Linked DNA regions of Homo sapiens. The protein of the gene in region 2 purifies or fractionates together with the protein of the main gene of each other region. This does not show direct contact. Each region holds a gene or a part of one and is shown on either strand. Other genes may lie near its edges.

Evidence for each region.
Region 1: the proteins of TAB1 (region 2) and USP18 purify together in Homo sapiens (affinity purification with western blotting; 2 studies listed by BioGRID). This does not show direct contact.
Region 3: the proteins of TAB1 (region 2) and SEH1L purify together in Homo sapiens (co-immunoprecipitation; 2 studies listed by BioGRID and IntAct, with this or other methods). This does not show direct contact.

Annotation. Positions count from the first base shown.
Region 1 is NC_000022.11:18,169,636-18,177,897, reverse strand, and holds the end of USP18 (ubl carboxyl-terminal hydrolase 18), read right to left. Parts: intron 8,055-8,262; coding exon 7,959-8,054; intron 7,146-7,958; coding exon 6,978-7,145; intron 4,749-6,977; coding exon 4,617-4,748; intron 4,106-4,616; coding exon 4,056-4,105; intron 1,127-4,055; coding exon 1,081-1,126; 3' UTR 501-1,080; downstream 1-500. UniProt on the Homo sapiens protein: Interferon-induced ISG15-specific protease that plays a crucial role for maintaining a proper balance of ISG15-conjugated proteins in cells. Regulates protein ISGylation by efficiently cleaving ISG15 conjugates linked via isopeptide bonds.
Region 2 is NC_000022.11:39,402,780-39,414,313, forward strand, and holds part of TAB1 (TGF-beta-activated kinase 1 and MAP3K7-binding protein 1), read left to right. Parts: intron 1-11,534. UniProt on the Homo sapiens protein: Key adapter protein that plays an essential role in JNK and NF-kappa-B activation and proinflammatory cytokines production in response to stimulation with TLRs and cytokines.
Region 3 is NC_000018.10:12,941,752-12,953,363, reverse strand, and holds the start of SEH1L (nucleoporin SEH1), read right to left. Parts: upstream 5,354-11,612; 5' UTR 5,243-5,353; coding exon 5,132-5,242; intron 1,510-5,131; coding exon 1,459-1,509; intron 1-1,458. UniProt on the Homo sapiens protein: Component of the Nup107-160 subcomplex of the nuclear pore complex (NPC). The Nup107-160 subcomplex is required for the assembly of a functional NPC.

The DNA.
Region 1 (8,262 bases), about 21 Mb from region 2:
GGTGCCGGACTCTCCCTGGGCCCCCCTGTTCTCTCACCAGCCACATCCATTCTCCCCCTAGAGGCGCTAGTGACTGTGCGTGGCTTTCCATTCCCACCACGTTTGTCTCTAACCCCAGTGGCAGATCAGTGTAAGAACACAGCTGAGTGCTCCTCGCCTCCTTGCCCCTTCAAGGGCCCCTCACCACCCACCAGATCAGGTGCAAACTTCCAAGTCTTACTGGATCCCCTTCCACATTCTGAGCTCCGCCTGCCTTCCCATCGCTATCCTTCCCCACCTGCCTCCCTGGTAGAGAAAAGCGGAGTGTGTGATGCTGTCTGAATGCTGAGCACGGCCTTTTGCAGCCAGTCCACTGTGTACGCTGCCCCTATCGGAGACCTCCACCTTAACCCTTTCCAGCCTGGAGGCTCCTCCCAGGGCCCCACAACAGAAGTGACTTCCCTTGCCTTTGAATTTCTATAGCACAATCCCTACTGCCCCCCGTTAAAACTGCAAAGTCCTTTTGTGGAAAATAACTTTATTCATGACTGTGTTTATCACACTATCTTATGGAGAAGAGATGATCAATAAATATTTGCTGAATAAATGAATAGCAGTTACAAAACACTTGATTCATATGGAATTAATGTTGGTTCTCAAAGTGAAAAATTACAAACAGCACTGATATTCAGCCAGTATACAAGTCTGGTCACAGCAGTTGTATAATACTGAAATACCCCCTGCCACTGACCTTTGGCCCCCAGATGCCTCCCACTGCCACTGCTCTCCCCACTGGGAACCCCTGAAGTTCCCACAGGCTCATAACTAAAGGGCTAATGTCTTGCACAGCAGCGAGCACCCAGGACCGAGCAGCCACATGGCCGGGTCTGCTGGTGAAAGCATCCATTCTGACTGATCAGGACCTGAGGGGCCTCATGGTTACATATTTTGATAATATCCCTAATTATAAATAAGGCTCAGTTATATAGTTTGAAAACAATGCTTCTCCTCATTGCAAAATCTCTTAGAAGACTCCGTAGATCCAGGAACGGAAATGGAAAATGACAGCGTGTCAATCTCTGAAGGTTTTGGGCATTTCCATTAGCACTCCATCTTCATGTAAACCAGAAGATATGCAGTTTCCTGCCTAGAGAGAAGAGAAGACACATCAGCACAGCGGCATGAAACCTTCATCAGAAAACAATGCTTCATTAATCCGTGACAGGACAAGCGTCAGCAAACTTCCAGGCGGCTGGATTAGGCCTTCATCTATCCATCACCTTGGAGAGGAACAAAATAGGTGGCCTGGGAAGATAAGCACTATGTTTCTATTAGTTAATATCTAAAGCGGAGGTTAACAAGCTATGGACACACAAGCCAAACCCAGCCCTCTTGGGGTTTTTTAAATCTACTTTCAACTTTTATTTTAGATTCAGCGGGCACATGTGCAGGTTTGTCACGTGGATATGAGCATACTCCCCAACAGTTGGCCTTTCACCCCTCCCCTCCCTCCCCATCCAGCAGTTCCCAGTTGTTGCCATCTTTAAGTCAATGAGTCCCCATGTTTAGCTCCCATTTATAAGAGAGAACATGCATTATGTTTTGTTTGGTTTTTGCTGGTTTTTTTTTTTTTTTTTTTAATGGAGTCTTGCCCTGTAGCCCAGGCTAGAGTGCAGTGGCACAATCTTGGCTCACTGCAACCTCCGCCTCCCAGGTTCAAACGATTCTCCCTCCTCAGCCTCCCGAGTGGCTGGGACTACAGGCGCCCGCCACCACGCCCGGCTAACTTTTTGTATTTTTAGTAGAGACAGGGTTTCACCGTGTTAGCCAGGATGGTCTCAATCTCCTGACCTCATGATCTGCCCACCTCAGTCTCCCAAAGTGCAGGGATTACAGGCGTGAGCCACCGTGCCCAGCCTTTTGTTTATTTTTTGACGAGACCGTTCTTGCTCTGTCACCAGGCTGGAGTGCACTGGCACAATAATAGCTCACCACAGCCTCGTGCTCCTGGGCTCAACTGACCCTCCTGCCTCAGTTTTAGCTTCCTGAGTAGCTAGGACTATGGATGTGTACCACCATGCCTAGCTATAATAATTTTTATTTTTTTGTAGAGATGGAGTCTTGCTTTGTTGCCCAGGCTGGTCTTGAACTCCTGGCTTGAAGTGATCCTCCTGCCTCGGCCTCCCAAATTGCCGGGATTAAAGGTGGGAGATCGCACCCAGTCTCCAACCCTCTTTTTGCAAGTAAATGTAACTGGACCCCAGCCATGCTCATCTGCCCATGTACTGTCTACGGCTGCTTTTGCTCTACAGGGCAGAGTTAAGTGGTTGCAACAGACACCGCACAGACCACAAAGTCTGAAGTACTTTCTCTCCAGCCCTTTACAGAGAAAGTCTGCCAACCTCTGATCTCAATAACAGGGAAATCAATGACAACCACAAAGTGACAAAGATTGGGTGTCTAAGATGGATGTTCAGAATAAACAAGAGAGAAAGATGAAAAGTAGAAGGAGGATTTCAAACGCAAGCTTCACCTAATCCATTATTTTTCAAATGACCAGGCCTATCTCTGTAGCTGAAAATCACCTCAAATAGGATCTCTGATATACAGTCTCCAAAAGCTCAGCTAAGAAACTTACAAAGTCTCTCTGCCTTAACTTCATCCACCTTTTTTCTCTCCAGCTTCTCCTCGGTAGTTAATGATTATAAAAATATTTATTGGCTCATGCCTGTAATCCCAGCACTTTGAGAGGCCGAGGTGGGCGGATCACGAGGTCAGGAGATCGAGACCATCCTGGCTAACACGGTGAAACCCCATCTCTACTAAAAATACAAAAAATTAGCCAGGCGTGGTGGCGGGCGCCTGTAATCCCAGCTACTCAGGAGGCTGAGGCAGGAGAATGGCATGAACCCACGAGGCAGAGCTTGCAATGAGCTGAGATCCTGCTACTGCACTCCAGCCTGGGTGACAGAGCAAGACTCCATCTCAAAACAAACAAACAAACAAACAAAAAAACAGTGTGATGGCCAGGCGCAGTGTTCATGCCTATAATCCAAGCACTTTGGCAGGCTGAAATGGATGGATGGCTTGAGCCCAGCAGTTTGAGACAAGCCTGGCAACATAGCGAGACCTCATCTCTACAAACATTTTTTTAAAATATGCCAAGCATGGTGTACAGACTGTATGCCTGTAGTCCCAGCTATTCAGGAGGCTGAGGTGGGAGGATCACCTGTGCCCAGGAGTTCAAGGCTGCAGTGAGCTATGATCACACCACAGTGCTCCAGCCTGGGCAACAAAGCAAGACTCCATCTCTAAAAATAAAATTAAATTAAAAAAAAGATCTTCGCTGTAAAAGAGGTATGCTCAAATGCAATAAAAGCATATAAGAAGGCCAGGTGTGGTGGCTCATGCCTGTAATCCCAGCACTTTGGGAGGCTGAGGCAGGTGGATCATGAGGTCAAGAGACTGAGACCATCCTGGCCAACATGGTGAAACACCGTCTCTACTAAAAATACAAAAAACAATCAGCTGGGCGTGGTGGCACACACCTGTAGTCCCAGCTACTCAGGAGGCTGAGGCAGGAGAATCGCTTGAACCTGGGAGGAGGAGCCAAGTGTAGTAGCCAAGATTGTGCCACTACACTCCAGCCCGGCAACAGAGCGAGACTCCGTCAAAAAAAAAAAAAGAAAAGAAAAGAAAAGAAAACCATACAAGAAGCCCCTACGAATCTGGGTGAATCAGCAAAGGCTTCACAGGATAGGAAAAGGCCATGAGTATGAAAACATGAGTGGGGAGTTGGCCTAGATGGTAAACGAGGAGAGGACAATACGGCCAGGAAGTGCATGTGCACAGCAGACGGGAGATGGAGGGCACGGCTGATTGGCAGCTACCTGTACTTTAATATTCCTGGAGTGTGACGTGTGAGGCAAACATGGGGTGGTGGGGTGAGTGCTGGAGATGAGGCGGACAGTGAGCCATCAGCATGTTAGTAACAGGGGAATCCATGGGCGTTTCATGCAGCTCCAAGGACCCTATGTGAGCTCATCAGACTCCAATTACCCAAATCTGTTTCTTACCAGTGGTAGTTAGGATTTCCGTAGGTACACTGGATGTCTTCCCAGGACACCTGGAAGCCAGAAACAAATGGGGTCAAGCAGCCAGCTGACACAAGCACCCACAGAGGACAGGATGCTATAATGTGCCCCTCATCCTCCAGACAAGCCCACCCCTAGCAACTCCCAAGAGCCTGGAGCAACAGCAGCAGGATGTCTTGTGCAATGAAGTATGTTTAGTGCCCTTGTCCCTGTGTTTAAACTTGGTCATGCTTATCCCAGAGGCCTAACTTACATATTTCTAACACTCGTTGCTCTCTAGACATTTCCCACAAAGCAGGAAGCTGCAGAGCATGAGCCTAGAGCACCAAAAACTTAGAAGTGAAGTGAATTGAACCCTTACAGAGGTGCAAACCACATGGGGACTTCAGACCGAAAAAGGCTTGAACCCTCATCAAAGGCCCCACACCCAGACAGCAGGATCACAGTGTGTCTTGATCTCAGAGACCCACGCAGCCCTGAGCCCAGCATTTGCTAGAGGTGGCCAATCCAGGGCAGGAGGCAATTGTGGATGATGTTTCTTACCAAGCAAATATTGGAGTCATTGAAGCAGAACCATTTTCCATCCACAGCATTCCGGATGTAGACACAGTAATGACCGGAGTCTGCCATTCCCACGTGCGCAATCACAGCAAAAAGCTCATACTGCCCTCCAGACTGGAAAGAGACAGGCACGAGACAGTTCACCCACCACCACAAACACGACTGCCTCACACATTTATACCTGCCCACACTAGGCCCGACTCTGGGACTTTAGAATATTAGAAAACAGTCCCGACCCACAGCCAGTGGGCACCCTCCAGGAGGGGCTTTCCCGAGTGTGGATCCTGAACTGCGAAGGCTCAGCAGCTTGGCAGGGCAGAGCACGCAAGAGATGGAAGGCAGGTCATGAGAGAGGCCCCCAAAGCCAAGGCAAGATTAGAACTTTCCCCTGGGAGGGGTGGGGATCATCAGAACACAGTTCTGTTTCTCCACAAGCCCAGGAATGACCCTAACCTGAGCCACCGTACCCAGCCAAAAAAGTCTTTTGTAGGGGGAGGGGAGACAGAGGGCAAGGGCGGCAGACGCAAAGCTGAGTCACCCACAGTGGAGGCTGAAATTATCCCTATTTCCATTTGCAGACTTTGTGCAGAACTTTACAAAATGCAGGGCAATATCTGTATCTAAATATTAGTTTACAAGAAATAAAAGGGTTACAGGAACATGTTAAAAGATATCAACCAGCCAGTGCTGGCATATGAAAAAAATATTCAACCAAATCAACTGCAAGGAAAAGAAAAGGAGCGGAAATCTAAAAGGAACTCAAGAAAAGAAAGAAACTTAACCAAATGCAAGTGTAGGCGTTGTTTGGATCTAGAGTCAAACAAACCACATAGATTACACAACAGTCAGGAAGTCTGAACGTTGACCAGATATTTGATGCTATTAAGGAATTGCAAGATGGAGATGATTATCTTTTGAGTGCTTATTCTTTAGGGATACATAATGAAGTGTTTATAAATGAAATAGTATGATGTCTGGGATTTGCTTCAAAAAAATCCAGTACAGGGTTGGGTGAAACAAGAGGGTGGGTTATAGGAAAAGCAAGACCTGCCATGAGTTTTGGTAACTGTTACAGCCAAGGATTCACTGTCTAACTCTTCCTTCACTACACACTTTGGTATCTATTTGTAATGTTCCATAACAAAGTCTTTTTTGTTGTTGTTGCAAAGATGGAGTCTTGCTTTGTTGTCCAGCTGGGCTCGACTCCTGGACTCCAGCAATCCTCTTGGCCTCCCAAAGAGCTGAGATTACAGGCGTGACCCACTGCATCCAGTCAAAAAAGTCTTTTTTAAGTGAAAAACAATTTTAAATACACTTCATTGGGCAGAATCTGCAGGTAGAAATAAAAAGAACTAGAAGGAAAGAAAAAGAGAATCCTATGAAATGTATACGGCCTAAGTAGGTAAAGAAATCATGTTATAATAGGAGCTATTGTAACATATTATCAGGTCTTAATTTTCTAAATGTCATGGTTCTAGAGCATAAATAGCCAAACAGACCAATAAAACAGAAGAGACACTCCAAAAATAGACCCGTACATACAGGAATACAAAATTTGTTATGTAGCATTTCAAATCTATGGAAAAAAAGATATTTGTGTCTTTTTTTTTTAGTTTTTCTTGTTTTGTTTTTAGAGACGGGGTCTTGCGCTGTTGCCCAGGCTGGAGTACAATGATAGATCATAGCTCACTGCAGCCTCAAACTCCTGGGCTCAAGTGATCCTCCAACTCAGCCTCCCAAGTAGCTGGGACTAAAGGTTTGTGCTACCACACCCAGCTAATTTTTTTTTTTTTTTTTGAGAGACGGGGGTCTCATTATGTTGCTGAAGCTGGTCTCGAACTCCTGGGCTCAAGCAATCCTCCTGCCTCAGCCTTTTGAGGTGTGGGATCACAGGCATGAGCCACATCACCTGGCCTTGTGTCTCTTTTTTTCTCAGAATCTCTTGATAAGTTATTATCTCAGGACAAGTGAATTAAACTTTACTCTGATTAAATGTGGTCCAGTCAACTGGCTACTTTATGATTATCCTCAAAGTGGGCACAGGCCATCTGAGGAAGAAAGTTTGGTTGGTACTATGAACCCACAATGACATGTTTGCCTATGCATTTCTATGTATTCCACATTATTTCCAAAGAAGCCTACTGAATTCTGGATTCTGTCCCTCAGTGCTGTGAGGCATATGAACACAAATCCAATATTTAGAAAGAAGAAAGGCTTTTGAGGCTGGGGACAGTCTCTGAGGAACAGGTGGCTCCTAGCAGACTGGGGGTGAAGGAAGGGAAAACAGAAAGGACATGGCATCTGGGGAGAGGCAGGATGGCAAGGAGGTCGGGATCATCCCACCTGCTCCTCAGCATCACAAGACTCTCGCTTCATTGGAAGGATCTGGCTGAAATCCAAGCTCTGGGGGAAGTACAGGGAGTGGCAGATCTTTCTCGTCTGTGAATTCCTGATGGAGAATCGCATGAGGTGGATTGTCAGGGTCTGGGGCAAATGGGTCAGCTTCAAGACCTGAAAAATCAAAATCACTCTGGAGATGAAGTCTACTTGGAATGAGAGAGTCAGAGAAATGTCAGGGCTAGCAACGCGTTCTTCCCAAAAAGAGGGGAGCGGGGCGACATCACGGAGTTCAAGGCTCCTGTTCGCCGAATCTGCTGAGCTCCTCTGAGAATAATGCAAAACTTGGCTATTCTACCACCATGTGGCCCCCCACAAGAGGCACAAGGGCACAGGGCTCTGCACAGGTACCAGGACCCAGGGAGCCACCGCGTCTGCTCCAGGGAGCTGGTCTCGCCTGGAGGGAAACGCCCTGCCGGCTGCTCTCAGGCGCCCTCCTGCAGTCCCTCTCAGTGATGCGACATGAGAAGCCACATCCACGGCTCCAGATATCAGAACCACAGCGTCCCAGATACTAGCCAGACCCAGATTCCCTTTCTCACCCACCATGGGGTGTCCTCGGGGCCTCTGATGATTCTATCAGGAAATCCACGGGGGGCAACCCCAGACTAGTGAAGGACAGATGACCCCTGAACAGCACGGGTTTGGACTGTATGGGTCCGCTTATACACAAATTGTTGTAAATAAATACAGTCTGCCCTCCCCCATAGGCACGAGTTCCACATCTGCAACCAAATGCTCATCAAAAATAAAGTATCCCAGATGCACAACCGCATAGATGAGGGACTGACTTTTCCTATACGTGGGTTCCACAGGGCCGACTGGGTGTGACTTGAGTGTGTGTGGATTTTGGTAAAAGCAGGGGTCCTGGAACAAATCCCCCATATGCACCGAGGGACAGCTGAGTCTGATTTAGGGAATGAGTACCTGTTTCCCACGGGTCTTCTTCCCACAGTTCTCACAGAAGCACTTGCTTTTGCTTGATAACTCCCTGGGCTGGAAGAAGCAGTGCAGGGCGTCCTCCTGTCCCACCCAAGAGAACAGGGAAAAAGCAGCGTTGGTATTTCCCACCTAGAATACTATATTCATCTGTTCTCACACTGCTGTGAGACAATAGCTGAGACTGGGTAATTTATAAGAAAAGAAGTTTGATTGGCCCATGGTTCTGCAGGCCAACCGGAAGCATGGCAGCATCTGCTTCTAGGGAGGCCGCAGGAAGCTCCCAATCATG
Region 2 (11,534 bases):
GGCCTCAAGCAATCCGCCTGCCTGGGCCTCCCAAAGTGCTAGGATTACAGGTGTGAGCCACTGTGCCCGGCCACAAAGAGGTTCTAAGGAGAGCTTGATGTGTTCAAAAGGACCCAGACCTTTCAGCCGGATAAAACAGTGTTAGTCTCATACTGGCTTTGGGCAAATCACTTTATGTCCCTGAGCCTTAGTTTCTCCAAACCAAGAGGACTCTGGGGAGTATTGTTGGTGTTAAAGGAACTGACACATTCCACTACTAGCCTGGCTTGGTTGCCCGCTAACCAGAAACTTCTACCTTCAGTGCTGCCGTGAGTGAATGCTGTTCATTCCCTTAAATGTCCCTGAGCACTCACTATGTGCTAGGCACCCTGCAGGTGCAGGAGACACCGCCTTTGTGGAGCTGATGGTCTAGTAAAGGGGACAGACAGTGAGCACCGAACAGATACAGATCATCTGTGATTTTGTAATATCCAAACTACAGCATCAGGTGGTGCTATGAGGAACAGTCTAGATTCACACACAGAATGTTGGGGGTGCCATTTTGGACAGGGTGGTAAGGGAAGACTTCTCCACATTTGATGAGATGAAAACGGGGAAATGGGGGCAGCATTCCTGCCCAAGGGAGCAGGAGATGCAAAGGCTGCTGTTTCAGGAGCCTCAGGGGTGCTGGTGCAGCTGGGTGGAGTGCCTTGGGGGAGCTTGGGAGTAGCTGAGGTCTGAGGGAGCCGGGGGCCATGCTGGGCTTCACAGGTCCTGATGTGGCCTCTGGATTCCATTCTTCATGTGATGTGAAGCTTTCATGGGGAGCAGATTGAGTAGGGACCTGATGTGATGTGACTTTTGATTGGAGAAAAATCCCTCTTTTTTTTTTTTTTTTGAGACGGAGTCTCGCTCTGTTGCCCAGGCTGGAGTGCAGTGGCGCAATCTCAGCTCACTGCAAGCTCCGCCTCCCAGGTTCACGCCATTCTCCTGCCTCAGCCTCCCAAGTAGCTGGGACTACAGGCACCCACCACCACACCCAGCTAACTTTTTGTATTTTTTTTTTTAGTAGAGACGGGGTTTCACCGTGTTAGCCAGGATGGTCTCGATCTCCTGACCTCGTGATCTGCCAGCCTCGGCCTCCCAAAGTGCTGGGATTACAGGCGTGAGCCACCGTGCCCGGCCGAAAAATCCCTCTTTTGAGTTTGAGTGGTGAGAGTGGAAGCCTGGGACCTCCTAAGAGACTCCTAGAGTCATCCAGGTGCGAGAAGGTGTCTTGGCCATGGGGATGGCAGAAGAATGGTGGGAAGTATCAGATTCCAGTTGTGTTTTGGAGGAAGAGCTCATGTGATTTGCTGATGGATTGAATGTGAGGTGTGTGACAGAGGAAGAAGAGTCAAAAAGGACTCTTAAGGTTTTGGTTTAAACAACAGTGGTGCCATTTACGGGGTGAGGGAGCCCTGGAAGAGGGGCACCCTGGGGCAGGGGGAATCAAGAGTTTGATTTTGCCTGTACTGTTACTTAATTATAAAAAAGAAAATCAGGCTAGGCATGGTGGCTCATGCCTGGAATCCCAGCCCTTTGGGAGGCTGAGGCAGGAGGATCACTTGAGGCCAGGAGTTCCAGATCAGCTCGGGCAACATAGTGAGATTCAGTCTTTAAAAAAATTAGTGAGGCATGGTGGTATGTGCCTGTAGTACTTAGGAGACTTAATGGGGTGATTGCCTGAGCCCAGAAGTTTGAGGTTGTAGTGAGGCTATGATCCCCTCACTGCACTCCAGGCTGGGTGACACAGCAAGACCTGTTTAAAAAAAAAAAAAGAAAGTAAGCTTAAAATCAATTTTTTAAACTTCGACATGTCCTGAGCAATTATATCTGAGATCATAGGTGCTGCTATCTGTGTAATTTATCTAAAGGATGTTAAAATAAATACATAGCCACTAAAATAAAAAGGTCCATGGGGGTACCACCTATACCCATTGCATACACCCAGCTGCTGCCCTAGCACATTGGAAGTGCCAACAATGATTATTAGCCCCTTTAAGAATGAATGAGGAGCTCTTTAGGATGACGACATGGAGAACCTTCAATGAAAACTCCGGTGGGAGAAGTGGGGGCCAGGAGTGGAGCTGGTCTCAGAGAAGTGGGTCATCCGGAAGGTTGGAGGTGGTGGGGGCATTGGGGCCTTGGAAGCTTTTTGGAGAGAAAGGTCTGCTGCTCCCCTGCTCCGAGCCCTCTTCCTGGGGTTGTGAGTCTCCCTTTCTGAGCTTCCTTTTTGCTTCTAAGGAATGTGGGTGCTTTTACCACAAAAACACTTGGCCTTTTCATAGCATAATTTGGTATTCAAGCTGTGGCCTGAGCTTGGAACCATTCTTTGTCCATTTCTGCTGCCCAGGACTTTGAGATGAGTCTGTGTGGGTACTTTGTGAACTATTATGTGACATGGACACATATATACATGAGGAGTGAATGCTTACATCATGCACAGGGTGTTTGTAAAGGCCTTGTTGGGTTAAATACTGTTGGATCACTGTAGAAGCTTTTCATACCGAAACATTAATTTTGGAAACTCCTTCACAAAATCAAATCAAAATTAGGTCTTTTGAAACAGGCTTCTTAACGTATTCTTGTGAAATTTCTCATGAGCAGTTCATTTCTCAGACATGGAAGAGTTAAGTCCTGCGTTCGCTGTTGTGTGTGTTGCAGTGGCTCCGCGATGAGGCTGTGCTGAGTGAGAGACGCCCCCTTCTCAGCTTCTCGCAGACTCTTGCTCCCTGCGCTCCAGCGCCGCTCACGGCTGGTGCTGGCAGGCCTGGCATTTGGGGGCGTGGGAGAAAGTATGCATCAGTGTGTGCAGGGGTGGAGGGGTGGGTGGTTTGTGTGAATAGAAAGTACATGACCTTTCTGAAAATTGTTCAGAAATGTGGAGGAAGGAAGCGAGAGACTTGGCAGTCCTGTAGGCTTTAATGGAATCAGCAATGGACGCTCGGTATGGCTAATCCTCGATGGAGATGGAAAGGGACGGGAGAACACGATCCAAGCCTACTCAGCTGCAGCAGCGTGAGTCCGCTGGGGAACACGGAGAAGACCAGATACTCTCACTCCCACTTGGTAGAACCTCCTGAGGTTCTCCGGCCACTGTAGTGAACCAGTGTCTGGCGAGCGCCCGAATTACGTGAGAAACTGCCCATGTGTCATTGGATCTAAGACACCAATGTTTTAAGGACACGTCAGTGTTTTGTCTATTGCTCAGAAAGAGAACTCACAGCTAATTAACTTGTAACATACCAACTCCAGAGACGTTAACATGTGGAAAATGTAGGTCTTCAAATCAGTGAAATAAGGTAATCTAATTAACAATACCAGGCTATAGCACAATGGTTGCCACAGGGCCACTTTGGGAGGCCAAGGCGTGTGGATCACAAGGTCAGGAGTTCAAGACCAGCCTGGCCAAGATGGTGAAACCACGTCTCTACTAAAAATACAAAAAATTAGCCGGGCATGGTGGCACGCACCTGTAATCCCAGCTACTCCAGAGGCTGAGGCAGAGAATTGCTTAAACCTGGAGGGGCAGAGCTTGCAGTGAGCCAAGATCGCGCCACTGCACTCCAGCCTGGGCGACAGAGTGAGACTGTCACCAAAAAAAAAAAAAAAAAAAAAGGAATCATTTGAGTGAAAGATAGTTTCTTGAAGATGGTCAGTGGATGATTGAGGTTTGGGAATCATGGGCCTCTGGCCCTAGTTGGATTTGAGCAGTGCCTTTAGGGTAGATAGGACTTAAAAAGACAGAAAGGGACAGGCTTTGCCTTACCATGGGTACTTTTACATATGCTCTTTGGGTAATTTTTTTCTTACTCTTTCTTTATTTTTTTTTAATTTATTTTTTATTTTTGAGACGGAGTCTTGCTGTGTCGCCCAGGCTGGAGTGCAGTGGCGCCATCTCGGCTCACTGCAAGCTCTGCCTCCCGGGTTCACACCATTCTCCTGCCTCCGCCTCTGGAGTAGCTGGGACTACAGGCACCCACCACCACGCCCACCTAATTTTTTTGTATTTTTAGTAGAGACGGGGTTTCACCGTGTTAGCCAGGATGGTCTCAATCTCTTGACCTCATGATCTGCCCGCCTTGGCCTCCCAAAGTGCTGGGATTACAGGCGTGAGCCACTGCGCCCGGCCTCTGGTCACAGTTTTTTAGAGATTGTTTGGAACAGTGAGTAGAAGGCCTTGTCTGTACAAGATACACAGCTGAGTGAGATTGTTAATCTGTCAAAGGGCAAAATTCAAAACTTTCGACAGTCTGGAAGGCTGGGATGAATGCATTAAGATGTAATTCGACTGATATAAATTTAGATTTAAAACAACCTTCTATAGTAGTTTGGCTGGGGGAGACAGACATGGTAGAAACTCACAGGAAAAGGACTTTGTTATTTTACATTACATAGAGGCTAGATGCTCATCTTCTCTTGGGTATATGAAAGCTGTTGATTTGCATACTTTGATTTTCTATCCTGCCGCCTAACTGATTTCTTTTTCTGTTTGCATTAGTTTTTCATTGATTCTTTAGGGTTGCCAGGCGTACTGTCCTATCAACTGCAAATAGAAATGACTTCTTTCCCGGTTTTTATGCTCTCATTCTTTACTCTGTCTAACTGCCTGGGCTAACACCTCCAGTTCTGTGTGAAGTAATAGAGTGGGCAGCCTTGCTATGGCCCTGATCATTTGTTGTTGTTTTGTTTTTTTTTTTTGAGAGGGAGCCTCACTCTGTCTCCCAGGCTGGAGTGCAGTGGCGTGATCTCGGCTCACTGCACGCTCTGCCTCCCGGGTTCCAGCGATTCTCCTTCCTCAGCTTCCCGATAGTAGATGGGACTACAGGCGTCTGCCACCACGCCCGGCTAATTTTTTGTATTTTTAGTAGAGACGGGGTTTTGCTGTGTTAGCCAGGATGGTCTCGATCTCCTGACCTCGTGATTCGCCGGTCTCGGCCTCCTAAAGTGCTCAGATTGCAGGTGTGAGCCACCGTGCCCAGCCTAATTTTTTGTATTTTTAGTAGAGACGGGTTTTCACCATGTTAGCCAGGATGGTCTCAATCTCTTGACCTCGTGATCTGCCCGCCTCAGCCTCCCAAGGTGCTGGGATTACAGATGTGGGCCACCATGCCCAGCCCTATGGCCCTGATCTTAATGAAGTGTTCCCCACTGAGTAAGTTGCCAGCATTAGGGCTGAAGTATACAGAGTAGCATGTTCAGAAAGGAGCCATCAGTTTCTGTTTTCTGGAGTGTTTTTACCAAGAATGGACCAAGACTCCTTAGATAAACAATAGCACTAGTGTCCATACTTACTGACCCAAACACCATTTGCCAGTTTATAAAATAATAAATTCCAGAAATATTACTGCCTCAACATTATGAAAATCAGATTTCCTAAAAAAGTACTTAGCAGTGTTGAAATATCTAGACACTATTCACGGGTACTTAATGAACAAGGCACGTGCTCAGTAGATTGATTGCCGTCAGACACACAGTTTTTCTCATTTGGGAAAGTTAGTTATTCCCACATCAGCCAAATACAGCACAGCATACAGTGGTCAGTAGATCATCAGCTTACTCCTGGTCTCCTGTTGTGAAACGCTCTCAGATGAATTGTTCTTGTGCCATGACACACCAACGTGGCAAGTTCCTCAGTTGCCTGTTTGAGCTTGTTTCTTTCTTTACTTGTGGAAGACAATTTCACTGGCGTTTTTTGTTTTTGTTTTTGTTTTTTGAGACGGAGTCTCGCTCTGTCATCCAGGCTGGAGTGCAGTGGCGTGTGCGATCTCGGCTCTCTGCAACCTCCACCTCCTGGGTTCAAGCAATTCTTCTGCCTCAGCCTTCCGAGTAGCTGAGACTACAGGCGCTTGCCACCACACCCGGTTAATTTTTGTATTTTTAGTAGAGACAGGGTTTCACCATATTGGCCAGGCTGGTCTTGAACTCCTGACTTGGTGATCCACCCACCTCGGCCTCCCAAAGTGCTGGGATTACAGGATTGATCCACCGTGCCTGGCCTCACTGGCCTTTTTTAATAGTGTATGTCTAATGTGGAACAGACCCATAAGTTGCTTGGGTCTTATTTATTTGGCTGGGAAACTATGGATTTTTTTAGAAAGATTCAAGTCCTTGGAAGCCTGTGTCTGTCCCTTATGGGAATTAGATACTGGCAGAGGAGGTAACTGTGATTACAGCATCGAAGACAGGTTTTGCATTGTGGTGACACATTTGTGTTAATATTATTCATCTCATATGAGAGGATGAGTTCATCTTAATCTCATTTTTAATCACAGCCTTCTAGAAAATAGAAATATCTTTTCCTCCCATGCTTTAAAACACCTGTGGCACTTTGGGGTGCTAAATATTGACTTCTTTGGCCATCTTTTCAGGAGGAAGACATGGGATACTCCTGACTGGGTAGATGCTTTTGTATTTCTGCTTAACCTCATAATTAATTTCATTCCAGCTGGTGGCAGGAGACAGACTAGAAAAGGAGCTACCTTTGGAAGTATATTTGCCTGGTTATAGGAGACTTTTGTGAGCTCGCTGGAAATGAAAATATACTAAGCAGATCTAAGACATAGGGGATAATTGGCAACATTTATCAGTTACCTGAAGAATACTTAATTCACTGGTTATTAACTCATTCCCATGGCCCAGAGGCCTTGCACTGCCCTCCCCCCCAGGCACATACGTGCACACATATTTGCAAACACGGCATGGAGCGTCTTTCCCCTGTGCTCACTAGAGAGGCCACACCAGCCTTCTCGTGCTTCCGTAAACCTGACATGCTTTTTTCCATCTTAGGGTCTTTTTACGTTCCGCTCCCTCTGCCTGGAAGCCTCCTTCTCTGCCTTCTAGAAGGTCACTGCCCCATAGTCATTCAGGTCTGGCTCAGACGTCACCTCCCCAGAGAGGTCTGCTTTTCTGACCACTTCATCTAGAGGCCCCCACCGCCCATCACGCTGTGTCCCATTACCATGGTGTGTTTTCTTCCTAGCACGTAGCGCTGTCTGAGATTGCCTTATTATTGTATTGTGTGTTTGAATTCTCTCTCTCCCTAGAAGGGAGGCTTCAAATAAGGAGCCTCTCTGTTTTCTCTTCTGTGTCCGCAGTACCCAGAATACTGCCAGACTGTTGCAAATGCTCAGCAGATATTTATTGAAAGAATGTATGTAGTGATTTAATGTACTGTAATCACATAATATCATATGTGGGTCCGGAAGACCTAAGTTCCCATTTATGTTAAGAGAGGCATTAATTTTGCTTTAAAATGAAACAGTTCAAGATTAGAACTAGACCCAATTTTGTGTTACTGTGAAGCCGTTTTTCTTCTTCTTTTTGAGACTGAGTCTCACTCTGTCATCCAGGCTGGAGTGCAGTGGTGTGATCTCAGCTCACTGCAACCTCCACCTCCTGCATTCAAGTGATTCTCCTGCCTCAGCCTCCTGAGTAGTTGGAATTACAGGTGCGCACCACCACGCCTGGCTAATTTTTGTATTTTTAGTAGAGACAGGATTTTGCCACATTGCCCAGGCTAGTCTCAAACTCCTGACCTCAAGTGATCCACCTGCCTCAGCCTCCCCAAGTGCTGGGATTACAGGCGTGAGCCACTGTGCCAGGTCAGCAGTTTTTCTTTTGGCGTTGCTTGTACTGAAAGTGTTAAATTTAAGCCTGGTGTCATGAGGAGCTGAGCAGAATTGTTGCCATTTCTACTTTTTTTTTTTTTTAATTTAGTTGTGACATACTTGGCTCAGCTAGCACTTACTGCCATTTCATCTTCCTTTTTTTTTTCATTTCCATTAGTAGGGTTTGGTTATACTGTCTATTTTCAAAGGCTATTAGAAGGCGTTAGTAGCTTTTCAGACCTTGTAGTAAAATTGTGTTAATAAAAATAAATAAATAAAAGTCACCCAGTGAAGACATAAATAAGTGTAGAGACACACCATGTTAATGGATTAGAAGACTCAACATAGTGACAATGTCTACTTTCCCCAAATTGATCTGTAGATTTAAAGCAGTTCCAATAAAAATCCCAACAAGACTTGTGGATATAAGTAAGCTGATTCTAAAATTTATATGAAAAGGCAAAGGAACTCAAATAGCCAAAACAATTTTGAAAAAGAGCAAGAAGATAAGGAGACTCACACTAGCCAATTTAAAGACTTACTATAAAGCTACAGTAATCAAGAATGTAGTATTGGTGGAGGGGTAGACACATCGATCACAGGAACAGAATAGAGTCTAGAAGTAGACCCACACAATTCAATGGAGAAAAGCTAGTCTTTTCAACAAATGGTGTTGGAATGATTGGATATTGGAATGAAAAAAAAAATGGACCTAAACCTCCTTCCTACCTTACACAGAAATTAATTCAAAATGGATCACAGATCTAAATGTAAAATATAAAACTATAAAACTTTTAGAAAAAAACATAGGTGCTCTTTGTAACTTGGGACTGGACAGAGAGTTCTTAAACATGACTCCAAAAGCATGAACCATGAAAGAGAAAAAATGGATTAAATGGACTTCATCTAAACTAAAACCTTTGCTCTGCAAAAGACACTACTGAGTGAAATGCTAAGTTACAAATAAAAAGAACTCTCAGAACACAATAGTTAAGAAAATAACCTAATTTAAAAATAGGCAAAAAACTTGCACTTCACCAAAGAGGATGAGTTGGTGCCAAATAAACACGTGAAAGATACTCAGTGTCGTTAGCCGTTAGGAAGTGCAGATTAAAGTCACGATGAGCTACCACTACCCACCTCTTAGAATATCTAAATTCAGAAAAAGACAATACCACATGGTGGCAAGGACGTGGAGCAGCCGGAACTCAACATTGGAAATGCAAATGGTTCAGCTGCTCTGGAAAACAGTTTGGCAGGTTCTTATAAAGTTAAACATATACTTACCATATGAGCCAGCCCTGTCACTCCTAGGTATTTACCCTGGATAAATGAAAAGTTACATTCATACAAAAACCTGTACATGAATGTTTATAGCATATTTCTTCATAGTTATAAGAAACGAAACAGCCCAAATGTCCTTCAGTGGATGAATGGATAAACAAACTTTACTACATCCGAACAATGGTATATTACTCTATGAAAGAGAGAGAGAGACTGTTGATGCACACAGGCTAACAACTTGGATGAGTCTTAGAGACATAATGTTGAGTGAAAGAAGCCAGTCTCAGGAGGTCATGTTTACTGCATCATTTCATTTATGTGACATTGTGTGACATTGTTTTGTTTTGTTTTGTTTTGTTTGGAGACAGAGTCTCACTCCGTCGCCCAGGCTGGAGTGCAGTGGTGTGCAATCTCGGCTCATGGCAACCTCTGCCTCTCAGGTTCAGGTGATTCTCGTGCCTCAGCCTCTTGAGTAGCTGGAATTACAGGTGTGCGCCACCACGCCCGGCTGATTTTTGTATTTTCAGTAGAGACAGGGTTTCGCCACATTGGCCAGGCTGGTCTCAAATTCCTGGCCTCAAGTGATGAGCCCCTCTTGGCCTCCTAAAGTGCTGGGATTACAGGCGTGAGCCACTGCACCTGGCGTTTAATATGACATTCTTAAAAAGACAAAGCCATAGCAGTGGAAAATAGGTTGCCAGGGATTAGGGGAGGGAGTGCGTTGGGAGTGGAGCTGCCCTGTATCCTGAGAGTGGTGGTAGTTACACACATCTCTACATGTGTCAACATTCACAGATGTGCGTGCCCCAGAAGCCAGTTTTACTCCATGTTAATGTAAAAATAAAACAAACTCCCACACCCTGCAGAAGTTGCTCCAGGGTGCAAAATGTAGAGCTGAAGCACCAAAATAGATAAAAGCAGAATAAAACCAATTATATGAAAAAAAGTGAAGTCACTCCTGTCAGTATATAACTAAACAGAAGCTACAATTTGCCACAAAAGCTAACCACAGGCTTTTTATATATATGATTGCAAAAGCCTGTTGAAGTGGTTTCCACATCCTTTCTGGAAGACTTAACAATAACTTTTAAGAAGTTGCACACAGTATCTGTGTGTGTTTTATTTCTTTTACAGATGATTCACTGTTGGCATATAGAAATGCTACTGATTTTTGTATGTTGATTCCATATCCTGCAACTTTTTTTTTTTTTTTTTTTTTTGAGATGGAGTCTTTTTTTGAGATGGAGTCTCGCTCTGTCACCCAGGCTGGAGTGCAGTTGCACGATCTCGGCTCACTGCAAGCTCCGCCTCCCGGGTTCATGCCATTCTCCTGCCTCAGCCTCCAGAGTAGCTGGGACTACAGGCGCCCGCCACCACACCCGGCTAGTTTTTTGTATTTTTAGTAGAGATAGGGTTTCACCATGTTAGCCAGGATGGTCTCGATCTTCTGACCTCATGATCCACCTGCCTCAGCCTCCCAAAGTGCTGGGATTACAGGCTTGAGCCACCGCGCCCGGCCCATATCCTGCCACTTTACTGAATTTGTTTAATCAGTTCTAATAGTTTTTTGGTGGAATCTAGGTTTTTCCAAATATAAGATTATATCGTCTGCAAACAAGGATCATTTAACATCTTCCTTGCCAGTTTGGATGCCCTCTATTTCTTTCTCTTATCTGGTTGCTCTAGCTTGTGTTTGTTTAATATTTCAATAAAGCTTTCAATACAATTTTTTTTTTTTTGAGACAGAATCTCACTCTTGTCGCCCAGGCTAGAGTGCAGTGGCATGATCTCAGCTCGCTGCAACCTCCGACTCCTGGGTTTAAGCGATTCTCCTGCCTCAGCCTCCCCAGTAGCTGGGATTACAGGCATGCACCACCATGCCTGGCTAATTTTTTTGTGTTTTTAACAGAGACAGAGATGGGGTTTCACCAGGTTGGCTAGGCCGGTCTCAAATTTCTGACATCAAATGGTCCACCCACCTCAGCTTCCCAAAGTGCTGGGATTACGGGCGTGAGCCACTGCACCCAGCCAATACAAATTTTATTTTCCTTGAAATTGAACTGTGGTTCTCCCAGTTATTCCAGTTTGCTGTAGTTCTGCATGGTGGTTCTGGGAGTGCCGTTGTGAACAAAGCGCAGTTTTCAGGTGGGAGGCCAGATTTGGGGCAAGCTTTCAGGGAGAGGCAGGGAATTGCACCTGGGCCTTGCATCAAAGTTGTTCCTGGGGCTTAAAAAGTACAGATGCTCAGGATGTACCCTAGGGAGATCTGGGAAATTCAGAAATTGTGTTTAGGCCGGGGATGGGGCCAGGGCCTGGACCGCTGTGTGAGCGTGTTTAAAGCTCTGCAGTGATTATGCTGAACAGCCTGGTTTGAGATCCTATGGGGTAGAATGGGCATTGCAGACAGGCAGGGATGCTGGAATCAGGGTGCCGTTGGGGTACATGAGAGGGCCATCAGCCAGTCCTGGGTAGGGTCATCCTGAAGGAAGACCTCCTGGAGGTGGTGACTCCTGAGCCAAAGAGTCCCGAAGGACCCGGAGAATTGGTAGGGAAGAAGAGGGAGGGTGTTCATGTGGAGGCAAAGAGCAGGGGATGGACAGGGCTGTAGGCATTTGGGAC
Region 3 (11,612 bases), on a different chromosome or scaffold from region 2:
ATCCAAAAGAAATGAAAATATATGTCTACACAGACTTACATGGCACGTTCTTAACATTACTCATAACAGCCAAAAACAACAACTCAAATGTCCGTCAACTGGTGAACAGACAAACAAAACGTGGCAATATACATACAACGGACTACTCAGTATCAAAGGAACAAATTGACACATGACACAATATGGATGAACCTCAAAACATGCAAAGGGAAAGTGGCCAGACACAAAGGACTATGTATTTCAAAATTCCATTTCTATGAAATTTCTAGAAAGGATAAACCAGGCCAGGCATGGTGGCTCAAGCCTGTAATCCCAGCACTTTGGAAGGCCAAGGCGGGCGGATCACTTGAGGTCAGGAGTTCGAGACCAGCCTGGTCAACATAGTGAAACCCTGTCTCTACCAAAACTACAAAAATTAGCCGGGTGTGGTGGCATGCGCCTGTAATCCCAGCTACTCAGGAGGCTGAGGCAGGAGAATCGCTTGAACCCAGGAGGCAGAGGTTGCAACGAGCCAACATCGCACCACTGCACTCCAGCCTGGGCGACAGAGCAAGACGCCAGCTCAAAAAAAAAAAAAAAGAAAAGAAGAGAAGAGAGGGTGGGAGGGGAGGGGAGAGGGAGGGCAGAGGAGAGAAGAAACCTATGGAGACAGAAAATGGATCAGTGGTTGCCTGGGGCTTGGAGTGGGAATAGGATACAAAGGAATTTCTGAGTTTGAGAGAAAAGTTCTAAAACTGGATTACAGTGATGACTACACAACTATGTAAGTTTACTAAAACTCACTGAACTGTACATTTAAAATGGATGACTTTTAAGGTATGAAAATTTCTACTTGGCCGGGCACAGTGGCTCATGCCTATAAACCCAGCACTTTGGGAGGCCGAGGGAGGATCACCTGAGGTCAGGAGTTTGAGACCAGCCTGGCCAACATGGCGAAACCCCATCTCTGCTAAAAACACAAAAATTAGCCGGGCATCGTGGTGCACGCCTACAGTCCCAGCTACTTGGGAGGCTGAGGCAGAAGAATCACTTGAACCCAACAGGCGGAGGTTGCAGTGAGCCAAGATCACGCCACTGCACTCCCACCTGGGCAAGAGAGCAAGACTCTCCGTCTCAAAAAAAAAAAAAAAAGAAAATTTCTACTTGAGTAAAGGTTTTGTTTTTTTTTTTTAAGAGAAAACTATGTATGAAACATCACAACAATTAAAATATGTAAAGGCAAAAGGAATATTCTGAATTACTAAGATAATTATGTTAGAATGCTACAGAATTACAGATTTTCTTACTCTCAAATTCTGAGAAACACAGTTGTTACTTTAATAGCGAAAAACAGTAAAATGTCTTCCCAGGAAAAGAACTACTGTATAAATGTTATTTTCTCAAAACAATTCATAGATAACTATAAAATAAACAGTAAATATTTCTGTATTTTTAATAAATGTAAAAATAAATACTAACCTTCCAGCTAGCAGTACAATGCCAATCACCACTTTCACTTTTATCCCAGACCTATAAGAAAATAAAAGGCAGATATTTTATACAAAAATTCCTACAAATTGATACAAAAACTATAAGACTGAATCAGTGTACAAGGAAAGCGGTGAACATATAGTTAACAAAAGAACACAATCAGCAAGTAAACATTCATTCATTCAATTAAGTATTTATTGAGAGGCTGGGTGCGATGGCTCATGCCTGTAATCCCAGCACTTTGGGAGGCCAAGGCAAACGGATCACCTGAGGTCAGGAGTTCGAGACCAGCCTAGACAACGTGGTGAAACCCCGTCTCTACTAAAAATACAAAAATTAGCCAGGCATGGTGCCGCATGCCTATAGTCCCAGCTACTAGGGAGGCTGAGGCAAGACAATCGTTTGAACCCCAGAGGCGGAGGTCGCAGTGAGCTGACATCACGCCACTGCACTCCAGCCTGGGAGACAAAGCAAGACTCCGTCTCAAAAAATTTACATTGAGAACCTTGAATGTGTCAAGCACTGGGCCAAGCACCAAGGGATTCAGGAAGCTGAGCTCTATTAGGTAACAGAGACAATTAGTTACAGTCACTACGCTTGGAGGCCATTTTAAACAGCAAAATCACCAACAGAAAGAACAAATAATCATTGCACTAAATAAATCATGAAAAACACCTGCTTACAGTATGAGCCAAAATAGAGTATCGCCTGGTTTCACCTCAATGGGAAACGTCTGTCCTGAGACTCAAACTTTTTCACCACTCCTCACACATGCACAAATGACTGCAAAACCAGTGTGACTTTTGGGGTACAAGTAAATTTCAGAGTAGACAAATTCAAAAAATACAGAATCTACAAACAACAGGCTCAACTGTACATGTAACAAATGGTAAAGCAAAAATATTGAAACCAGGCATGGTGGTGCACACCTGTAGTCCCAGCTACTCAAGAGGCTGAGGCAGGAGGGATTACTTGAGCCCAGGAGTTTAAGGCTATGATCACGCCCGTGAATAGCCACTGCACTCCAGCCTGGGCAACATGGCAAGACTCCATCTCAAAACAAAAAAATTAAACCTTATTACCCAGAAAAAATATAGATTACAATAAGAAGGTGCCAATTTCACCTGTTAAAAATGTAACGAGGGCAATAACACTATCAAATCAATACTATCACTGGCGGTATAAAACGGTACGACCTGCAAAATAGCAATTTGTCAATTCTCTTCAATAGTGTTTAAAATATCCACTAATTTATCTTCTAGAATTAGCCTAAGAAAATCATTCAAAATACATAAAATGCTAAACTAATGAAAAATTTCAGTACAACACTATTTCTGACAAGACATATACGTATATACACACACTCTACCATGACAACTTAAAACGTTAAAGGAAAAACAGAGGAAATCAATAAATATTAACACATTAGCAATAAGTCTATAATTTTTTCACTTTCTAAAAAGAAAAATATATTACTTGCTCAATTAAAAATATATACAAATAAATACATGGCTCCTCCTTTAAAAAAAAAGTACTCTGGAATAAATGGACCTAAGAGGGCTGGGCAAGGTGACTCACACCTGTAATCCCAGCACTCTGGGAGGCTGAGGTGAGAGGATCACTTGAGCTCAGGAGTTCGAGACTAGCCTGGGCAACGCAGCAAGACCCTGCCTCTACAAAAAAAATGTTTTAATTGGCCAGGCGTGGTGGCGTGCACTCGTAGTCCCAGCTACTGGAGAGGCTAAGGTGGGAGGATGGCTTGAACCTGGGATGTTGAGGCTGCAACAAGCCAAGATCGCACCACTGCACTCCAGCCTGGGTGACAGAGCCAGACTCTGCCTCAAAAAAAAAGGAAAAAGAAAAAAGAAAAAAAAAATTATACTAAGTGAAATAAACCAAATATAAAAGGGCGAATATTCTATGATTCTATTTATCTGAGGTACCTAGAATATGCAAATTAATAGAAAGCAGTAGAATAGAGGTTACCAGAGGATGGGGTGGCGGAACAGGGTGCTCTTGGGTACAGAGTTTCAGTTTAGGATGATGAAAAGGTTCTGGAGATGGGCAGGGGCGACGCTGCACAAAAATGTGAATGCTGTGCTCTATGCCACTGAATTCTACACTTTAAAACGGTTAACGTGGGCCGGGCGCGGTGGCTCACGCCCGTAATCCTAGCACTTTGGGAGGCCGAGGTGGGCGGATCACGAGGTCAGGAGATAGAGACCATCCTGGCTAACATGGTGAAACCCTGTCTCTACTAAAAAATACAAAAAATTAGCCGGGCGTGGTGGCGGGCGCCTGTAGTCCCAGCTACTTGGGAGGCTGAGGCAGGAGAATGGCGTGAACCCGGGAGGCGGAGCTTGCAGTGAGCCAAGATTGCGCCACCCCACTCCAGCCTGGGTGACAGAGCAAGACTCCGTCTCAAAAAAAAAAAAAAAAAAAAAAAAAAAACGGTTAACGTAGTTTATTACAACAAAAATAAACTTGTTTTAAAAAAGAAACTACATCTTTTAAAAATTGCAACACTATTTATAAAAAGTTTATCTTTGAGAGATCACTGGTATCAAACTCGAATGTGAAAAAGGATAAACTATCCTTCAGATTTCCAGTTACTCTGGAGTTGTCGAGAACCAAATAATCCGCACTCCAGCTTTCATTCATCCTGCAACACATCTGGGAGGTTCCTAAATCTCATGTAGCATCCCCACATTAGAAATTCTGCTTGTAGGCCGGGCGCGGTGGCTCACGCCTGTAATCCCAGCACTTTGGGAGGCCGAGGCGCCGAGGCGGGTGGATCACGAGGTCAGGAGTTCGAGACCAGCCTGGCCCACATGGTGAAACTCTGTCTCTACTAAAAAATACAAAAAAAAAAAAAGATTAGCCGGGGGTGGTGGCGTGCACCTGTAATCCCTGCTACTTGGGAGGCTGGGGCAGGATAATCGCCTGAAAGCGGGAGGCGGACGTTGCAGTGAGCCGAGATCGTGCCATTGCACTCCAGCCTGGGTGACAGAGTGAGACTCGGTCTCAAAAAAAAAAAAAAAAAAAGAAAAGAAATTCTGCTTGTCGGAAGTGTCTACAGACGTTTACGGGAACTTCAAGAAACAAACCCTCCGATTCCTGGGCAGCAAGCAGGGAAATCATTGGATGTAAATGGTTTGTATTTTTCTTCCTCGGCGTAACAAAGTGAGCTTCTGCTCTGAACCCACGGAGAAAACCATGTGCCCTGGTGAGAGAACACCGGCGGGGCACAGAACTCGACGCAGCGCCAGCCAGGCAAAGTCTCCCACCAGGTCCCACTGCAGGTCGTCGGGTGAACAGCGCGGGCAAGACCCACGACGCCGAGGCTGACGGTGGGATGCCCCTGGGTTCCCGCCCGCAGCCCCGGCAGCGCGGCCTGGGAGAGGGCCCGGCGTACCCTGCGGGCGGGAGCGCGCACGTGGCACCAGCTGCGCAGGCGCACGGGAGGGCGGCCCGCGAGGCCGCCGTGACCCCACAATACGCGGGCGGGGAGGGCTTCCGCTCAGTCCAGCCAGGGCTCGCCCGCCACCCCACAGCTTCCAGCGGCGTCACTGAACCAAGACACAGCCCCGTTCCCCGCGCCGCCCACCCACTCCCCTTCCTTCCTTCCGGGGTCGGCCCCGCCCGCAAGCGCCGCGCGCACCTTAACGCTCTGATCGCTGGAGCAGGTTGCCATCCGCCGCCCGTGGAAGTCGAAAGAGACATCGTGGATGAGATCCTTGTGGTCCGCCGCGATGCTGCGAGCCACAAACATGGTTTCCGTCGGGCCCGCGCCTCCGAAGAGGACAGTGGCGGCGGCAGCGGCGGCGGCGCGTGGCCCGTAGCCTAGCCAGACCTCGCAGCCCGGGAGCGCACGGCTTGTGCTGCCCACGCCCCCGCACCGCCCCTGCCTATCAAGCCCCGCCCACACACCCTCCGGTCCTTCAAGCCCCGCCCCACCCACCGGCCCGTCAGGCCCCACACAGTCCCCTGGCCCCTCAAGCCCTGCCCACGCCCCGGCCCGTCATGACTCGCCCCACCTTCCGGTCCCTCAAGCCCCGCCCCGCCCCCAGGCCCGTCAAGCCCCGCCTACCCTCCCACCAGAGCCGTCATGCCTCGCCCCACCCTCCCGCCCCCTCAAGCCCCGCCCTGTTCCCGGCTCGTCAATCCTCGTCCCGCCCCCGGCCCGTCATGCCCTACGATCCTGGTGCGGGTTCCTCCAGGCTCTGACCGTTCGGCGGCGGAGGGTGCTCTGCAAAAGGCGAGTTACCTGTGCTGAGAAGTAGTAAGAGCTTATTGGTATACTGTGCAAATGAAGAAAGATGAAAAAGTGAAGACTGCCTCTCACGGTCCTCGGCCCTGAATCATTTAAGTCGACGTTTGGATGTGTTTCCCCCCAGACACATGCGAGGCGCGCGGAGCAGGTGGAGAAGACGAACCGTGGGTTTGGTCAGGAGCCGCGCTCCGTCGGGACGGCTGAAGAGCAGGGAGGGCCGGGGAGACGCCTGAGGGGATGACAAGCAGTCCAGGCTCGGCAGCCTAAGAGCGAAGGCTGGACGGGGAGGAAAGGATCAGAAGTAGTAGTTTAAATGTGTCAAGATTTTACAGGTAGAACAGGCCTGGGGGTGCTAGGAGCCACCACGGGGGTAGGGAAATAGTATGAATTAGAAGAGTCCGCCTGTAGAAACGTGTCATCCCGGGGGAAGGAAGCGGCCGGGGAAGTGGGCTGCTTGCTACCCGGGAGCCAGAGTCCTCCGGGGAAAAGGAAGTGAAGAGGGCCAGAGCCCCTGGGAAGAGGCCTGGCTCAGATCAAGGATTCTGCCAAAACCGGAAAGTGGAGGAGCCAACGACTCGGGGGGTTTTGCTTATCAGGAAAAGGCATTCTAGAGGGCGTAGTGGTAAAGTTAGGATGGGAGACAGTGGAAGCTTGCGTCAGGGGAGCGAAAGTACAGAAAAAAAAAAAATGAGGCTGCAGAAGGGACTTGCCCTTTGGATTTTGGCCAGGAATGACAAAAATGTGAGGTATGGTAAAATTAGCAGGCTGGAAAGTTTTTTAAATGATTAGTCCCAGCTGTCCCCTGATGGATTGCACAGAAACCTGCAAAGAGAAGTGGCGCAATGACCTGACCTTTTTCAACCATAAATAAGATTTTATTGCTACTTTAAGAGGTGGGCCCCACCTCTTATGATAACTGATAACAACTATAACTTTTTTGAAGGTCAAAGACACTCATTTCCAAAGAAAGTGCTCACTATAAAAGTCCAATCAAAATATATTGATTATTATAAAAATATCAAAACAGTTTAAAAATTGTTTTAATTAAATTTAAATACAGACAGTAAACAGATCATTGGTTGCCAGAGATTATCAGAGTGGGAGTGAAGTGTTGAATTAGGTGAAACAGTGGATTTTTTAAAATAGACTTTAGTTTTTAGAACACTTTCAGGTTCACAGCAAAATTGAGCAGAAAATAGAGTTCCCGTATGTACCCCTACTGTCACACATGCACAGCATCCTCCACTGTCAACATCCCATACCAAAGTGGTACCTTTGTTATGATCAGTGAACCTACATTGACACATCATTATCACCCAAAATTCAGAGTTTGCATTAGGGTTCACTCTTGGTGTTTTATTCTGTGGGTTTTGGCAAATATATAATGACATGGATCCACCATTATAGTATCACGCGGAATAGTTTGACTGCCCTGAAAATCCTTAGTGCTCCTGTTCATCCCTTTCTTCCGACAACACCTGGCAACCGCTGATCTTTCCACTGACTGCATGGTTTTGACTTTTCCAGAATGGCATATAATGGGAATCTTGGAGTGGCTAGCCTTTTCAGATTGGCTTCTTTCCTTATAGTAATATGCATTTAAGCTTTCTCCATGTCTTGTCTTGAGAGTTCATTTCTTTTTAGTGCTGAATAATATTCCATTGTCAGGCTGTAACAGTGTTTATTCATTCCCCAACTAAAGGGCATTCTGGTTGTTTCTGTGTTTGGGCAATTATCAATAAAGCTCCTACAAACATCTGTGTACAGGTTTTTGTGTGGACATGTTCGCAACTCCTTTGGGTAGATACCAAGAAGCATGATTGCTGGATCATATTGTAAGAGTAAGTTTAGTTTTGTTTTTTGGGGTTTTGTTTTGTTTTTTGAGACAGGGTCTCACTCTGTCATGGCAGACAATCGTGGCTCACTGCAGCTTTAAATTCCCTGGGTTCAGATGATCCTCCCACCTCAGCCTCCCGAGCAGCTGGGACTACAGGCACAGTGCCACCACACCCAGCTAATTTTTCTGTTTTTTGCAGAGATGGGGTTTCACCATGTTGAGCAGGCTGGTCTCAAACTCTTGGGCTCAAGCGATCCTCTTGCCTTGGCCTCCCAAAGTGCTTGGATTACAGGCATGAGCCACTGTGCCTGGCCTGGTTTTATAAGAAACTTACAAACTGTCTTCCAAAGTGGTCGTGTCAGCCAGGCCTGGTGGCTAAATTACCCTGTAATCCAGCACTTTGGGAGGCCGAGACGGGCAGATTATCTGAGCTCAGGAGTTCAAGACCAGCCTGGGCAACGTGGCGAGACCCGCTTCTCTACTAAAAATACAAAATAAAAATACAAAAAAATGCCCCAGGAGTGGTGGTGGAACCGAGATTGTGCCACAGGACTCCATCCTGGGCAACGCAGGGAGACACTATCTCAAAAAAAAAAAAAAAAGAGAGAGAGAATTTAACACAGGAAACTGGTTACATATATATCCAAGGGGTTAATTAAGAGCAAAAAGGGAACATGTGAGATTACCCAGAGACTAGTAACTACGGGAAACTCTGGGCTGGGAGCGTGAAAGGGAAAATAGTTTTACCCAGTGCTACCATCATTGACTCTGAGGCTGCTGACATTGGCACCTTTACCACCAGCAGGCAGAAAGCCAGGAGCCAATACTCCAGCTTACACTGCAGGCGTCCAACAGAGTAACAGCCATGGGAGCCCACAAGCTCTGAACAGCTGAGGTTCCTGGAGCCTCTGCTAGTACTGCTGGAGCTAGGGCTGAGTGCTGCTGCTACTGCTGCTGTTCACATCACCCCCGAGCAGGAAGCCAGGCTCACCCATTGCCACCACCACCACTACTCAGCTATGTGAGCTGCCTCCACAAATTGGAGAAAAGGTCTTCTTCCTCCTGCATCTGAATCCCCTACTGTCTCTCAATTCAGAACCTAACTAGAAATAGAGAGCTAATAAGAGTCTGGAAAAACAAGCTTGGAGGTTTCCAGTTCATATTCTGGAAAGAATACGACCTACAGTGAAGGCTGGGCGTGGCAGCTCACACCTGTAATCCCAACATTTTGGGAGGCTGAGGCGGGCAGATCACTTGAGGTCAGGAGTTCAAGACCAGCCTGGCCAACATGGTGAAACCCCGTTTCTACTAAAAATACAAAAATTAGCTGGGCGTGTTGGTGAGCGCCTGTAATCTCAGCTACTCAGGAGGCTGAGGCAGGAGAATCGCTCTAACCCTGGAGGCAGAGGTTGCAGTAAGCTGAGATTGCACCGCTGCACTCCAGCCTGGGCAACAGAGCGAGACTCCATCTCAAAAATATAAATAAATAAATAACCTACAATGAGTTAAGAAGCTTTCACATTTTTTTTCCTGCTCTGCGCCAGTTTAAATAGCATAGGAACTGAAAGATTCCTATGAAGATTTTGTAGAAGATTCCGTGAAGATTTTGTAGATGACGTTCACAAAATTTTATCAGCCTCATGCCTTGGGTGATGATAGGTATAGTTAATTTTAACTACCTTTTAAAATTATTTTATTCATGGCCTCTTCAGATTTTTTACCTTTTGTCAAGACAATTTTGATCATTTATATCTTCCTTTAAAAAATCAGCCATTTTGTGCTGGGCATGGTGGCTCATGCCTGTAATCTCAGCACTTTGTGAGGCCGAAGTAGAAGCATTGCTTGAGCTCAGGAGTTCAAGACCAGCCTGGGCAACATAGTGAGCCCTCGTCTCTACAGAAAACAAATTAGCCAGGTGTGGTGGTGCACGCCTGTATTTCAGCTACTCAAGAGGCTGAGGCAGGAAGAGGATCACTTGAGCCCAGGAGGCAGAGGTTGCAGTGAGCTGAAATCGTGCCACTGCACTCCAGCCTGGGCGACAGAGTGAGACACTGTCTCAAATAAATAAATAATCAGCCATTTCACTGAAATATTTAAACTTATTAATATAGAGTTATATATGTTAATGTCTTGCAATTTCTAAAGTCTCCATATCTGATGTAAGGCTTTTTTTCTTATTTCCATTGCTTTTTGTCTTACTGCCTTTGTCCTTAACATTTTGCTTTTTAATGAAGTATAATATAGATTCCAAAATGTACACGTATCACAAGTGTACACAGCTCACTGGATTTTCACAAACTGAACACATCTGTGCAGCCATCATCACCTCGAAAAAGGGAGCATGACTCACACCCTTAAAGCTCTCCTGTGGTCCCTTCTGGTCTTTACACCCCTCCCCAAGCAGTAACTACCGACCTCCTTCCTAACAGCATAGGTTGGTGTGATGATTAATTTTATGTGTCACCATGGTTAGGCTATGAAGCCCAGTTCTTTGCTCAAACACTAGTCTAGATGTTGCTATAAAGGTATCTTGTAGATGGGATTAACATCTGCAATCAGTTGTGTTCCGTGAAAGGGTCGTATTAATATATACAAAGCGACCCCCAACTGCCGAAGGAGCTGAGAAACCAAAGAAAGAGGCAGACAAATCCAGTTGGTCAGTTTTGGATGATTTATTAGGGGATTATATTTTGGGGGATTTATTAGGGGATTATATTTATTGACTTATTAGGGGAACTTACAGACAGAAGTCTTGGGTCTTGCGGTCTTGAGTGGCTGCAAGACAGGTAGATCTCCACTCCACAACCCCCCAGACACACAGCTTGGGAAAAATGCATACGTGCTCTGGAAGGAATGTATAGGTGGCTGTGGGTATCACAGCCTGTGATTTCTGCAACAACAAAGGTGGTTTTGGAGGCAACTTACAATAAATAGCTCTTCCTACATAAAGAGTAATACATCAACTAGACATTTTGGAGGCATTCTCAAACTCAGGGTTAGTGGGAACTTACATGGTAGATTGGCGTTTTAAATTGGCCAGGGGCGGTGGCTCACGCCTGTAATCCCAACACTTTGGGAGGCCGAGGCAGGCAGATCACGTGAGGTCAGGAGTTAAAGACCAGCCTGGCCAACATGGTGGAACCCCGTCTCTAATAAAAATACAAAAATTAGCCGGGTGCGATGGCGGGCACCTGTAATCTCACCTACTCAGGAGGCTTGAGGCACAGGAATCACTTGAACCAGGTAGGCTGACGTTGCAGTGAGCTGGGATCACACCACTGCACTCCAGCCTGGGCGACAGAGCAAGACTCCATCTCAAAAAAAATAAAAAATAAAAATAAAAAGTCACTCTTGTCCCTACAAGTTGCCTTTAAGTAAAGGAGATTAACCTTGATAAGGTAGCTGGGCCTCATCCATCCAGTTGAAGGCCTTAAGATAAAAGACTCAGGTTTCCCAAAGAAAAAAATTCTGCCTCAAGTCTGTGTAACACAGAAATCCTTCCTGAGTTCCTAACCTACCCTACATATGAGAGACTCAGACTGCAACATCCTTTCCTACCCCATATCCAGCCCACCAGTTTGTCCCAAGGATTTTAGACTTAACAGCCTGCACAATCACATGAGCCAATTGCTTTAAAAAAAAAACCCTTTTGTATTCTTAGAAATAAAAAAGAAAGATGTAAATATTGTCTTGTTTCTCTGGAGAATCCTGACTGATACAGATTTTACAGATTTTATACAAAGATTGGTTCTAGAAGAACAGAGTCTTTTTTTTTTTTTTTTTGAGACAGAGTCTTGCTGTCTCCCACCAGGCTGGAGTACAGCAGCGAGATCTCGGCTCACTGCAATCTCCGCCTCCCGGGTTCACGCTGTTCTCCTGCCTCAGCCTCCCAAGTAGCTGGGACTACAGGCGCCCGCCACCACACCCGGCTAATTCTTTTTTATTTTTAGTAGAGACGGGGTTTAACCGTGTTAGCCAGGATGGTTCTCCATCTCCTGACCTTGTGATCCGCCTGCCTTGGCCTCCCAAAGT